Homo sapiens: one gene and its partners. The protein of the gene in region 2 purifies or fractionates together with the protein of the main gene of each other region. This does not show direct contact. Each region holds a gene or a part of one and is shown on either strand. Other genes may lie near its edges.

Region 1 (3,566 bases), on a different chromosome or scaffold from region 2:
GACAACATAGACCCCCATCTCTACAAAAAATTTAAAAATTAGCTGGGTATGACGATACATGCCTGTGGTCCCAGCTACTCAGGCAGCTGAGATGGGAGGATCGCCTGAGTCCCGGAGGTTGAGGCTACAGTGGGCTGTGTTCATGCCAGTGCACTCCAGTCTGGGCAACAGAGCAAGACCCTGTCTCAAAAAATAAATCAGTCATTCAAAAGAAATTCTTAAGGAATCATATTCATTTCTCATCTGTTACCTATGTTTTACATTGTTCTTTTTGCCTTCATCTTATTTAACTGTACAGTTGCCCGTCAGTAACTGGGGGATTGGTTGCAGGACCCACCCACTCCTGTGCCAAAATTCACGGATGCTCAAGTCCCTTATATAAAATAGCGTATAGTATTTGCATATAACCTAAACATATCCTCCCATATACTCATCTCAAGATTACTTAACGATACCTAATACAGTGTAAGTGCTATGTAAATAGTCATACTGTAATGATAAGTAAAAAATCTGTTTAATACAGACTTTGTCATTTTTAAAAATATTTTTGATCAGTGGTTGAATCCACATATGCAGATGGCAAACTACATTTAATTTACCATAATACATGGGTTGAACATTGATTTTAACCTAATACATTTTTCTAAGTAGAATTTTGTGTTTATGTTGTGGGGAGGTAGTACTAACTCATAAAATTCCCTTTAAGCTGTTTCCTCTCTGTATCCTCCTCCTAGAATCTAATAATTCTTTAAGAAATTAGTAATTGCAGCAGGAAAACTTATAAAGAAAACTGAAAGAACACTGAAAAAAACACTTATTTTGAATACTCTTGATCTTAATGAATTCATTTACAAAACATGAATTACATAACCCCTTTGGTCGTCTCCTCATATAGAGAGAAAAATGATATCTTAGGATTCCTTCCATCTGTAAAAGTGTTTTGGTCTTCTGATTTTTAAAATTCATTCTTCAACTTGATGTAAGTTTTCCTTTCTTTTTCTTTCAAGACAGGGTCTCTGTTGCACAGGCTGGAGTGCAGTGGTGTAATCTCGGCTAACTCTAGCCTCAACTTCCTGGCTCAAGCCATCCTCCCACTTTAGTCTCCTTAGTAGCTGAGACTACAGGCATGCATGCTTTTAGTTTTGTTTATATTTTGTAGAGATGCGGTCTCGCTATGTTGCCCAGTCTGGTCCCAAAGTACTGGCCTCTAAGTGTCTACCTATCTTTTAATTGAGTGTTTCTGCTGTAAACTAATGAATATAAAAAATTGCAATCTTATTTTTAACAGCTGCGTTAGTTATTTAACTGGTATCATATTTATTATATTTGGATCCTCCCTAATTGTTTAATTGTTATAAGTAGTGCTTTGTACAAAAGTCTTTTTGTAATTTTTTTGGTGGAATAAATTCCTGGATGTGGAATTACTGGGTAACTTTCTTGCTATGTTTGGGGCCTCTGCCTGTTTCCACGTGACATAGTTAGATGTAGTGTTTTATTCATTGAACAATTTCGAGAACAGATGTTTGGAGGGATTGAGCAGATCACAACTGCTTTTGCAAAAAGTAGCTTTCTTTGGATTTAAATTTTTTTTAATTGCAGTTATTCCTCTAAATTACCCAGAATTGGGGGTGCTTTTTTAAGAAATCAGAAACTAAAATGACTTAGATTTTCTAAGCAGATTATTTGTTTTTCAGATTCGACCTCACATTACTACTTTGCGCAAATACACATACGGGAAGCATATACTGGCCAAGTTGGAAAAGTATTATTTGAAGAATAGCCCGGACCTAGGACCTATTGGAGGACCACCAAATGGAATGCTGTAAATTACAGGAGCAAGAGAAAGAAGATAATTTAACCATGTGAAAAGAATTTTTTTGTGTGTGAATTATCAAAACACAACTCAACTATGAATCTTCAATTTTTTTTTAAAGCAAAACTATTTATTGACTTTATTCATCCATTTGTAAATTTTTTAAGGTTCTTGTGTATATTTGGGGGGTGGGGGATGAATTATAAATTATATTCAGCCCTGAGTGGAGACCTATCAGATTGGATTGCTGGCAAAGCACAGAATGCCTGTATATGATGTAACTGTATCAAAAATAAAAAGCTGTCACATATTTTGTAAATTTTTACCTTGTAAAGTCACAAAAATAGTTTTTAAAGGAAAAAGTACAGTATTCTTTTAATAAACTGGCTCACAGTCTGGTAGGTCTACAACCCCATAGCACAACAGGTTTATAGAGATGTATATAGAATTATAGTCCTTATTTTTTTCCTTTGCGTGAAACCTTTTATAACAGATTAACAATCAACTGCATAAATATTATTAATATTTTAAAAAGAGTTAAGTTGTATTTTGATAATTCACAAACTATCATGCAAATAACGAGTAAGTAGACAAGAATAAAGTGGTTTGAGATGAAAAGAACCTAACATTATTTACAGTAGATGTGGTTTTAATACAATTACTGCCCTAAAATGTCTCTGGCAATGTACAGAAATATTGTATATACTTACATATGTAATTGTTGTAAGAGTTAAATACAAAATCATGGTGACACTTCCAATTAAGTGCACTAAATGAAAAGTTAAGTCACTTATTAACTTTTCAGTTTGGTTTGCAATGAGAAAGAGTGGAAATTTGTATTTTGTTTTGCTTATAGAATTACAGACATGTTGAGGAAGTGTTGAGCTTTATTTTGCTTTTTCATAGAGGCAGAAAGTAGGAACCAGATAGAGATGAAAAGGGGCCACTGAAAAGTGAATTTGATAGCTCAGCATTTAAGCATGATTACATATTCAGATAGCTCTTTTTGCTTTCTATAAATATATGCATTGTGTGTGTAGTAATAGATGTAAGTTTACACTTTGAAAGGAAATCTTGTTTCAATGTTTATTATAAAAGCCTTGCTAATTTAGTAGTGATGCTTTCCTTGGTTGTACAGGTGTACATTTGTAAACCTTCATGCTGTAAATGGAATTTGTTTTATCTCTTTGGGATACATTTGCATTTTAGTGTACATTTACGTCCCTGCCCTCTTTGACCTGGCAATATAGTGTTGTATAATGTAAATTTATTTCTCCAAATCGAGAGTGATTTTTTAAAAATTTTTTATCTTTATATGGTTTCAGAAGTATGAACCAGCTTTCTTTTTATTATTGTGAGATCATTTTGTTTTATAACATAGTTGTTGACTGTTAATATGGACCTGCTAGAATTTGGATCACTTTCAATTGAAGTCAGGGTATTGTGCATAATAGAAAGTATTGGACTGAGATATTTGGTTACCATGGAGGCCAATGCTTTTTTCATCTTATTAAATGTGATGTGACTTTTTTCTTTGTACAGAAGAGTACTGTATTTTTGAATAGCCTACTCCCAAGTAAGAGCAAATCTGTATGATAACATTTTTTCCTCTGGACATAAGACATAACAGTAACACGATGTACATTTACAAGCGGCCTTATGTACATTTCCCAACAATCTTTTTAAGGCAAAATTGTGACCATATGTGTATAATTAAAATCGTTTTTAATCCTTTGCCTATGAAAATATTTTG
Region 2 (5,712 bases):
ACAAGGACTACTACAACAAGCCCCTAGAAATATGTCTGCTGGGTCTGTCCACTGCTCAAGGACATCTTTTTATTTTATTTATTTATTTTTGAGACGAAGTCTCGCTCTGTCACCCAGGCTGGAGTGCAGTGGCGTGATCTCGGCTCACTGCAAACTCTGCCTCCCGGGTTCACACCATTCTCTGGCCCCAGCCTCTCGAGTAGCTGGGACTACAGGCACCCAACCACCACGTCCGGCTAATTTTTTTTGTATTTTTAGTAGAGACGGGGTTTCACCATTTAGCCATGATGGTCTCGATCTCCTGACCTCGTGATCCACCCGCCTTGGCCTCCCAAAGTGCTGGGATTACAGGAGTGAGCCACCACGCCCAGCCATCTTTTATTTATGGTCATTTATAAATGGAAGTCAATTTTTAAATGGAGAGCAAGCTAGCTGCCTCCAGAATATCTCAGGGAGGGGTGTGGATGATAACGTAGTACATATGGAAGGTAAATATTAAAGTATCCATTAAATATATATTTAAAATAAAATATAAAATAAATATGTATTTAAAATAAAGTATTTTTTACTTATATTTAATAGATGCACTGAACCCAGTACCTTCTCAGTCCTGTGTATCACCTGCCTCCCTGGGGGAAGACTGAGCAATCATCGAAGGGGAGAGGCGGCGAGTGGCACTCTCTCCTGCTCTTTAGCCTGAACAAAATCCATTTTACAAATAACACAGCAAGCAGATATGGAGGATTAGACTGGATAACCTGCTTTAATTAAAATGACCTCCATTTAAAGAAAAAGTAACTTAAAAAAAGATTACTACAAATGTAAATCAGAGTAAAGAATGGTACCAGTAAGGGAAATACAAGTAAATAAGGAAAGGGAGAGCCGATTATTTCTCCTACTCTTAGTACAAGCTACATTATAAGGTTAGACACAAGATAATCCAACATGCATCACATGAAGTCAGATGAGATATCTGAAATTATTTTATGGTCTTGCTTTAAAAGACATTTATTAAGATATTAGGTACATGGAAAATGAAGCCAACCAGTATAGTAATTAGCAAGACATTTAATACAGATTGTCTCATCTTTATCCTTTTTTATGTTTGATTAGAGTTTATAATTTAATGAATAGCACACGCCCATGTACATATGTAATTTATGAAAAAGGCACATAGGAGAGAGATGTGTATAAACATTTTTCTATCAACAGGACCAAAGCTCCAATTATAACCTGTCAAAATTTTGAACAGAACCATGTATCAGATCATTCCTATTTTAAAGCTAGGTGTTCATAAGTAGAAAATAAAAATAAAGTACCTGCCTAATTTCTAAAAAAATTAGCTGATGGACTATGGGAAGGCCTACATGTAAGTAAGGGGAAATGTGAACCCGATTAAAGTCAGAAATAAAAATAGGAAGATAAGTTATTGATGGGTAAGAAAATATACTCGGAATCCCACAAATAATGATTATCAAAATCTCTCCAAAGCGCCAACCGAGAACTGCTTGGAAATTATCTACAACAAGATCATCTTCTTACTGCCTTACTGCCTTATTCAATTAGATGGTATCATCTGTCCTCTAAGAAAGAGGAAAAGTATTCAAGGGGATTGATACCGGTTTCTTCCAAAAGGAAATTGTGATAATGCAACCAGTACGTCATGCCTTAAAGGCAACTCAAGTGCTCATTTAAAAGGCTTTTTAAAAAATGCATAAAGGCTCATAGAAGCAGGCACACAGGTCATTACACTAGATCATATTCAATAAAATTATAGCTGTTTCACAGAAAAGAACATGAAAAAATTTGGCTTAAAGTTTAATTCTGATATCATGTCCCAAGAATATACTTAAGGGGCTTGAATTACACCATCCATCCAAATAAATAAGGCTTGTCCTATTTTGAAAACTGCAGTCAATTAAATAAGCGTATTAGACCAGCAGTGCTCATATTACAACAATTCTCTGATTATTCATAGATTGACTAAGCCATAAACCTCACAAACCCACCTTTAAACTTAACCCTTATTACATGGATTTTTAAGCTTTTTGACCATAAAAGATATGGCTCATACTTTATGATTATTAAAAGTATTCTTGACCATAATACATATAACTTATATTGCTCAATCTCTCTCAACTCCCAAGGTACTATGAGAACATAAAAATACAGTGAGAAATTTTCTACATGTCTGCTGAAAGGTGACAAAAACTCAAGGCAAGAGCATTAAAACACAAATATCAGGGACAAAATATATCTGTGTGATGATTTAGACTCGAACTACAGAAAACAGCAAAATACCAACAAAACAAGCAAGCCCTTAATTCAAGTTTCTTTATCAGGTGAAAGAAGAAGGGGGAGTGGGGCGGAAATCAAGATAATGACAACCAGGTTCAATATACTGTATTAAAGAAAAGCATCAAACATCAGGTTAAACCTGAAATCTGATTTCTTCCAACACACCCAATCTAGATCAAACACTATCTCTGAGCACACTAACTCGTTCATATTTTATTATCTGGACAGGGATCATGGGAGGAATGAGAAATGGGGTGAATGGGACAACAGTTAAAAATCTGAAGAGAGAATAACAATTTCTCCCATTTTCTGAAACCAAGTTTCCCTTACAACTGACAATCTCTTATTCTCTTCTTCCAAAATGTCTTTCTATAGGAGTGAAGGAAAAAGAATTTTCAAGTTAATGATAACATATGGTACTAAAAGATAAAAACACAGAATGGGCCAGAAAAAGATAATTAAATTTGACCATAAGAACATCCTGTAAAGCTTTACTCAACCAAAAATAAAAAGCACAGAGCCTGCAGGGATGGAGGCTAGGTAAACCTAAGGGCTGACACCCATCAACAACCTAGCACCTGAGTCACCTACAAGCCTTGCCATTTCAATAATCAGGCACTCTCCCAAATCCTGTCTTCTCAATCTTCCTAAGAATTCAATCTTGATTCCAAGAACTTTGTTTTACTTAATAACTATCAAACAAAATCATTGCTTCAATCTGGAAAAAAAAAGTAGCTAATATAGCTTTCCACTAACAGCAAACATTTTATAACTTCACAATGTTAAAAATCAACCAATACATTATGAAGAACTTTGTTCTATCTAAACTCGAGATCATTTTCAAGGCCCCAAAGAGCTCTGAAATTAACTGGACAAGCTGCCTAGGAAATACCTGTAAAATTCCTTCAGGCTTGTTCATCCTACGTTTGCAATTTAAAAAAGTATATTTATACATATATTATTCACTTAAGATGTCACAGAGGAAACCTATGTGCAGAGCTGAAAAAGGGCTTTCTTTGTGAGACTTCTTTCTCCACAAAGGCAAGCATCAGGCAGCCCCACGCATCTCCCACACTAGTCTGATCACCACTACCATGGGAAGTCAAAGGTGGCAAAGGTTTTTTTTTTTTTTTTTTTTTTTTTTTTTTTTTTTTTTTTAATACCAATGCCTTTTCCTCACAGCAGAGCATGAAGTACAAGGCTCAATGCTTTTGACAGTACCACCTCTTCTCCCACGGCAAAGGCCAACTTAAGTTGAAATTTAATGTGGCATTCATAACAAATTTCCTTCTCATATCTCAAGCAACATAATTTAGTATTTTTTTAAAAGGAGCTATTTTTAACTGATTTTATCTCCACTCTCTTCAGCACTGCAAATATTCCAATGAAAAAAATAAATGCATAGATTTAAGCTAGAAAACATAACTCCTGATCTTATTAGGTTATATTTGTGATTATATTTTTGGTAATTAACTATTCTGTCCCATGAATGAAATAAATAAAATTGATATGCACTTGGAAATAATTTTTAAAAATCAGTGTGGGGTTAGATAGCATTCTGGGTATAGTGTACCATATGGCCAAAAAGGATATTTAAAAATGTCCTGGAAAATAAAAACTGCATGACTTGCTTATGAAACCAAAAACTCTCTGCTCTGCTTAACTTCTTAAAGTCACTGTTCTTCTCACATGCAGATTAGAGATTTTTTGAATGACTCCTGGTTTGTTATCCCAGGATCAGAATAAAACTTAAACAGTTAGCATATGTACACCTGTCAGTGAGATAGAGTGTCTTCTTTGGGCTAAAGCCACGGTCATTCTATGAACTACAGAGAGGTCAGTAAATTACAACCGACAGGCCAAATGGAGACTGCCTCCCACCTGTTGCTGTATGGGCTATAAGCTAAGAATGGCTTTTACATTTTTAACAGGTTGTTTAAAAACAAAAACAAGACAGATGCAACAGTGACCATAACCCATAAAGTTAAATATTTACTATCTGGTACTGTACAGAGAAAGTCTGCCAACCTGTTTGTAAACAATTTTGAAAAGGAAGAGAGGAACTCATTTGTAGAAACTTCACGTAGTCACATAGGTTATATACCCTTAATGGTGCACATACTATAAAGTGAAGTAACAGAAACAGCTTGACCTAAAAATTGACACATGAGAATAAAATCCTTTAAGAAAAAAAAAAAAGGAAATCTGAAGCCCTGGAAACAATTCAGATAACCCCAGAAAGCTACAGATTAGAATTTCTCAACCACAGCATTATTGGTGCTTTGGACCAGGTAACTTCTGGTTGCTGGGGCTATGCTGTACACTGTAGGAGCTTAGCAGCATCCCCGACCTCTAGCATTACATGCTAGTAGCACCCCCACAGGTTGTGCCAACATGAATACCTCTAGACATTGCCAAATGTTCCCTGGGAGGCAAAAATCACCCTTGGTTAAGAATCACTGCTGTAGGTTACTGTCCTTTGGTCCCCACCTTCAATATTAGCAAAAGACACTATTCCTCAAGTAGATTCTCTCTGTGCCCATGGAGATGAAAAATTAATAGTAATAAAACCAACAACACTGACAAAAGCAAACCAGAGATCCTGTCAATAAAAGTACTGGACAGTAAACCTGAGTATTCTCTTTCAGTTTAGTAGCTGGGCACAAGAACCAAACCAGACTTACCTAAAACGCTGTGCCTGCTGAGCTAGCGGTCCTGGATACCTTCTGTTTGGAGACTGGTACAGCTGGGAAAGGATGGCCTGATTGGTTTTTTGGCTTGGGTTATTAGCAAACTTTACAGTGATTGGCTCCGTGGCACCGGGAGGTTTCTGGCCATTTAGGCCTTTGATAGCTTCTTCTGCCTCAATTCGCTTGTCAAATCGAATAAACCCTACACCCCTTGATATGCCTATGGTAGATTTGAGTAAAGATTTGGAAAAGAGGGAACAGAAGGAGAAGGGAAGGAGAGAAGAAAGGACACATTAATTTTTCCTTCTCAAGAACATGTTTTCACCTACATATAACATTTCCCACAAAATCACACCAGGAGGAAACTTTCCCCTTTACTTACTAGCCATTCAGTTTAGAATCACAATTTTGCATTTTTAGAAAAATTCGTGTCACTTACATAATCTGAGTACCCATTATCACATGCATTCCAATCAGCTAAGACAAGAAAACACAAGCATGTCCATGTTTTCTCTCTCTCCCACCTCCCTCCCGTACACTCTTTTAATGTCAATAGTGTACCGGAGTTCCATTTTTCAATTTGTGCTATTGGATAAGCAGCTCAGAAATGAGGGACACAGTAGTTCCTGTCCTTGAAACAAGGAGAACAGAAAGAAGAATTTGCTAAAAATGCTACAAAGCTATGCTAAAAATACATACACTGTGGTAGAAAGACATTTCGGTT
Region 3 (2,435 bases), on a different chromosome or scaffold from region 2:
AATACACCTGGGATCCTGGCTCCCAGCTTCCGATGACTTGTTTCATGAACACTAATGAACGGGCAGCACAGGGAGCAGGCATCCTCAGCTGCTCCTGGATGGCATCTGGATGGCGGGACATTTCATTTTTGCTTTTTTTTTTTTTTTTTGAGACAGAGTCTCACTGTTTCGCCCAGGCTGGAGTGCAGTGGCGTGAACTCTGCTCACTGCAAACTCTGCCTCCCGGGTTTATGCTATCCTCCTGCCTCAGCCTCCCAAGTAGCTGGGACTACAGGCGCCCGCCATCATGTCCGGCTAATTTTTTTGTATTTTTAGTACAGACAGGGTTTCACTGTGTTGGCCAGGATGGTCTCGATCTCCTGACCTCGTGATCCGCCTGCCTCGGCCTCCCAAAGTGCTGGGATTACAGGCGTGAGCCACCGTGCCCAGCCGGATGGCAGCATATTTTTTACATCATGTTGTTTTATTTTCAACTACTACAAAACAGAACAAGAATCAAATGTGATAATACAATTTTCTTTATTAAAAATAATTTACAGCATCAGTAACATATACACAATTGTCATCAACTGAACTTTGCCTCCAATATATTTCTATACAATACTTAACATTATTGAACTTAAAACTGTTACACTGTTTTGTTGGCTTTAAATAATAGACAATGATTTTTGTCTATTACTTAGTGATAGACAAAGTGATTACTTTGTTACTTAAGTGAGATATATGGTTTCATAGCCACATATTATGTGTAAAATTGATAGAAACGTCAGCAATATCACTCTTTAGGGGAAAAAACACTGAAAAGCCAAAGTCCACCCTCTTCTTCTCTCTTATTACTCCAACCAAACTAAGATAGGATAAACATCCAGTATCTTAGTATCTCCTCCTAAACCTAAAGACAAAAGAAAGGTGTCTTCTATTCAACCACAGAAAAATGTCAAATAATTTCTTCTCATCCTCTCACTCATCACTGTGAAAGCAAATGCACACGACCTTGTTACCATATATGCAGGCAACTATGATTCTGATTTAGGTCCTAGCTTTACTTTCCTTTAGTACAACTGTTGTTTGATTACCAACGAAAAACTAAGCAATCTGGCTAGAGGGATACTAGTACCTTCTTTCAAATGTCAGCATGGAGATAAAACAAAATAGTGATAACTGTCATCTTAGAAACTTTTTAGATATAATAATGGCAATTCAGTGGCTGGATGACATTTCCATTGATTCCATTGTATAAGAGTAGCAAAACCCCAAAATATGAAAATGGCAATGATATGTAGCATAATGTTTTCAAAGTATAAAAAAAACCCTGCTGTTGGTAGTGACCTTTGAAATTGTACTTTAAGCTTACAACACTGATTTGCTTTTCTTGTGTGTCTGACATTACACTTCCTTTTTTTTTTTTTTTTTTTGGTAACACAAAATTACCCAAGGTATAGTAAACAAAGAAGACACAGACAATAAAAACTAACAGATGCCACATTTTGCAAACATAGCATTTGGCTAGAGGCAGAATTATAAGGTATACATATTAAAACATACATCCAAGACTCTCCTCCTCAATTTGAAACCATGTTTATCAAGTTTTTACTTCATTGTATATAAGCCAAAAAATTAAGAGAACCTTGATTTGTTCCTGAAATACAAGATTTGCTTGTATTATTACTGGACCAGGTAGACTGGATATGTGAATGTTTAATTCATAGTTAGCTAGCTTTACCATCATCTCCTGAATCAGCTGCTGAGGATGCCTGTGCCTCTGCCCATAACTATATATAGAGTATGCTTTCAAAACAATATAGGCCGGGTGTGGTGGCTCACACCTGTAATCCCAGCACTTGTGGAGGCCAAGGCGGGCGGATCACGAGGTCAAGAGATTCAGATCATCTGGCCAACATGGTGAAACCCCATCTCTACTAAAACTACAAAAATTAGCTGGGCGTGGTGGTGCATGCTTGTAGTCCCAGCTACTCAGGAGGCTGAGGCAGGAGAATCCCCTGAACCCGGGAGGCGGAGGTTGCAGTGAGCCAAGATCGCGCCATTGCACTCCAGCCCAGCCACAGGGCAAGACTCCGTCTCAAAAAACAAAACAAAACAAAATAGATTTGTTTCCCCCTGCACAATCTGGAATTACCATTTCTTCAGAGCACATACAGGCATTTCATCTTTCAACCTGTAATTTCTCCTAACTCATGTTTTCATGTAAATTAAAAACACATGCACTAACAAATAAATATACAGCATATATCAAGAACACAATATAATTTGAAAGTGTCGAAGAAAATACTTATACAAAATTTAAATAAAGAAATCATTTTGTCGAACTCTAGTCCATCTTATTGTCTAAACACATATTTGCAAAATATTTTCAAAAGATTGTATGATTATGTGCAAAGTTCTTAGTGGTCTTCATCCACTGGTTTGGTAGTTTC
Region 4 (3,566 bases), on a different chromosome or scaffold from region 2:
AGTTCACTATTTTGAAGTATCCAGTGCATTGGGTTCTAGTATATTCACGGAGTTGTGCAGTCATCACCACTAATTTCTGAACATTTTCATCACCCAAAAAGAAATCCCCTACCCATTAGCAGTCACTTCCCAGTGTTCCCCCACTCCGACAGCCTCTGACAACCTTAGACTAATGTACTTTTTATTTCTATGAATTTACCTACTCTGGAAAATTCATATAAATGGAATTGTAATACAATATGTGGCCTTTTGTGACTGGCTTCTTTGACTTGGCATAATGTTTTCAAGGTTTGTTTACATTGTGTCATGTATCACTACTTCATCCCTTTTTATTGTCTAATAATAGTCCATTGTATGGATATACCATATTTTTTTCATCCCTTCATCAGTTGATGGACATTTGGGTTGCTTCTCCTTTTTGACCGTTATGAGTAATGTTGATAAAAACATCTGGATACAACTTTTGGTTTAGATACATGTATTCATTTTTCTTAGGTGTGTGGTAGAATTCCTCGGTCATATGCTAACTATATTTAACCTTTTGAGAAACTGCCAGACTGTTTTCCAAAGTGGCTGTATGATTTTACATTCCCACCAGCAGTATATGAGCGTTTCATTTTCTCTAAATCCTCACCAACACTTAATATTATTGTTTTGATTATAGCTGTCCTAGTGGATGTGAAGTGGTATCTTATTGTGGTTTTGATTTGCATTTCCCTGATGACTAATGATGTTCGTCATCTTTTTATGTGTTTACTGGCCATTTGATAATCTTCTTTGGAAAAACACCTTTTCAGATTCTTTACCCATTTGTGTGTCTTTGGAGTAATATTCACATCTTTTGCCTATTTTTACTTGGGTTATTTATCATTTTATTATTAAGTTGTAAGTGTTCTTAATATATTCTAGATACAAGTCACTTATTGTATGTATGATTTGCAAATATTTTCCTTTTTCTTGGGTTGTCTTTTCACTTTCTTGATGGTGTCCTTGGAAATACAAGTTTTAAATTTTGATAAAGTCCAGTTTATTTTTTTATTTTGTCACTTTTGCCTTTGGTGTCTGCGTTCCAACACTAATTCTGTAGCATCAGCTGGGTGTCCCCCACTTCCGTTTAGTTCTGGCACTAGCTGCCCAGGGTTGGCATCAGATCCCACAAATTAAAGGACAAGGTCCCCACTAAGAATGCCATTAATTTGGACACCAGCTGTAAATGGGGTCCCCAGGCTACTCACACTTCTGCCCTGCGGACTACAAATTCAAGACTTCCCATAATCCCCTCAAGGCTGATAGTTCACTAGAATGACTCACATAACTCACTGAAAGTGCTCTACTTGCAATTACAGTTTTATTATAAGGGATACAACTCAGGAACAGCCAAACAAGAAGTAGACACATATGGCAAGGTCTGGGGCAAGGGAAGGATGCAGAACTTCCATGCCATCCTTGTGAAATGTGGGATACAACTCAGGAACAGCCAAACAGGAAGTAGACACATATGGCAAGGTCTGGGGCAAGGGAAGGATGCAGAACTTCCATGCCCATCCTTGTGAAATGTGGGCACATCACCTTCCCAGCACATCAGTTTTTGTTCACCAAGGATGCTCCACTGAGTATCGATGAAGAAAGTTTTTATGAGGTTTCATCACATGGGCATGATTGATTAAATCATTAGCTACATGGCTGAACTTGATCTCAAGTCCTCCTCCTTTCATGGAAGGTTGGCCTGACCAGTTTATTCCTCTAAACATATAGTTGGTCTTTCTAGTGATTAGCCCCCATCCTGAAGCTACCTAGGGGCCCATGTTGCCTCATTAATGTAACAAAGACACTCCTATTTCTCAGGAAATACCACGGGTTTTTGAAACTTTCTGCTGGGTATTATGTCCAAAGACCAGGTACTCTCTCTTATAAGATGCCACAGTATCACATCACTTTGCCGAATTTTGAGTTTATGTGTGTATCACACTCAGTGACAAGAAGGAGAGTAACTTGGGACATGTTATTCTGTTTTCTGTCTTTTAAAATATGAATATGACCCTGGTAAATTTATATAATCAAGTAGGAAGGTGCCCTGGCTGCTAATAATGTTATCTGTTCCACTGTTTTATGTTGCACTCTGGAAAGTACAGTCACAGAAGCATAGGAAAACCTGAGCAGTTTCTGCTGCAGAAATACTGAAAGGGTATGTCCTCAGGGTTGTCATTTATATCATAACATGCAAAAGGAAGAGTCCATGAATAAGTAACTTTATTTCTTCTAATAGGGATTATAAGGATTATACTTAGAGATTACCTCTTAGACATCCTTCATAGATTTAAAAGTTCATTTTGCTGCTTGCTCTAGAGAAGTACCTGAATACCTAATATTAAATATGTTAGAAAAACAGAAATTTTGTTCTTAGATGACATTTTTACTCAGTATTCATTACTTTTCTTTAGAACTTTATTTTTTCTTGATTATATTTTTCACTACCTGCATATAGTACATTTATCATTCTGATTACAGAATTTATCTTAAAGACTTGTATTATATTTTGCATTATAAATATTGAGGCTTTTATTCTCAAAATGTGTTATGGGAAAGAGAAACCAATTGTGCATAATTATTTGGCAAATGGTTCAGAAAGTCAACTTTAATGATATTTGGCTTTAAGTATGTATTGCTAATTACATAAAAGCAATACAAAAGAGGAGACAAAAATGATAAGATTTGGTTTCTACTTTCAAGGGAACCAATAATGTAGCTACATGTGGTCACAATGAATAATACAAGGAAAAGAATTTGAGGGGAGAGGGAATTTTGAGGTTTGGTTTGGGACCTTTTAAATCCCACCACTTGGGCCTTGGTGCAGGAAAGCAAGTTTAGTAGAATTATCTGATATTAGATGTCATTTCAGTGTTACTCATCTAACAAATAAAACTAATAAGCAGAAGTAGACAGGTTGAAGTGCAACCAGAGCCTGTTTTTATGAAAGCTGAGGGAGAGACTAGCAAAGTCTATGTAATGTAAAGATCAGAAAAACATAACATTGTCTACTGGAATTGGCAATTAAGGTATCAGTCTTTGAGAAGCATGTTAGTCTTCTTAAAGTGTTTTGGATCGAAAGGTAGAGATAAAAGCCAAATTTGAAAAGAGGATAATAATAAATAGGAGAACAGGCATCCACTGCAACAGGAGTTTCAACCTATGCTGTATTCAGTAACTATGAATTTGTCCCTAATGACTAATATGATCATTACATCTCTGATGCCACCTGAGACCTAGGCTTCCACTAACATAAGCAAATTTATACTAGCGTCTTATTTGGAATATTGACACTAATATTCCGAACACAATTCAGATCACTGTCCCCCTCAGTCACATTCAAAATGTGAGGCTCTTCATTCTCCCATGCACTTATCCCTACACCACTATGTGTTCCCCTCTCTGAGACCCAGTCTTTCATTCCTCCCCTCTCTACCAAACTTCTCCACATACCATTTGGCATTCTACATCTCCTGTCAGGGGGGAATGTCTTCAGTTTCCTTATCCCTCATTCCTTCAAATCTATCTTTACCTATACT

The links. Proteins that work in one complex are often made in the same cells at the same time.
Region 1: the proteins of ELAVL2 (region 2) and PUM2 purify together in Homo sapiens (co-immunoprecipitation; 3 studies listed by BioGRID and IntAct, with this or other methods). This does not show direct contact.
Region 3: the proteins of ELAVL2 (region 2) and IREB2 purify together in Homo sapiens (affinity purification with mass spectrometry; 2 studies listed by BioGRID and IntAct, with this or other methods). This does not show direct contact.
Region 4: the proteins of ELAVL2 (region 2) and RO60 purify together in Homo sapiens (co-immunoprecipitation; 3 studies listed by BioGRID and IntAct, with this or other methods). This does not show direct contact.

What each region holds. Positions count from the first base shown.
Region 1 is NC_000002.12:20,249,845-20,253,410, reverse strand, and holds part of PUM2 (pumilio homolog 2), read left to right. Parts: intron 1-1,694; coding exon 1,695-1,826; 3' UTR 1,827-3,566. UniProt on the Homo sapiens protein: Sequence-specific RNA-binding protein that acts as a post-transcriptional repressor by binding the 3'-UTR of mRNA targets.
Region 2 is NC_000009.12:23,696,397-23,702,108, forward strand, and holds part of ELAVL2 (ELAV-like protein 2), read right to left. Parts: intron 5,209-5,712; coding exon 4,983-5,208; intron 1-4,982.
Region 3 is NC_000015.10:78,499,519-78,501,953, reverse strand, and holds the end of IREB2 (iron-responsive element-binding protein 2), read right to left. Parts: 3' UTR 501-2,435; downstream 1-500. UniProt on the Homo sapiens protein: RNA-binding protein that binds to iron-responsive elements (IRES), which are stem-loop structures found in the 5'-UTR of ferritin, and delta aminolevulinic acid synthase mRNAs, and in the 3'-UTR of transferrin receptor mRNA.
Region 4 is NC_000001.11:193,062,546-193,066,111, forward strand, and holds part of RO60 (RNA-binding protein RO60), read left to right. Parts: intron 1-3,566. UniProt on the Homo sapiens protein: RNA-binding protein that binds to misfolded non-coding RNAs, pre-5S rRNA, and several small cytoplasmic RNA molecules known as Y RNAs.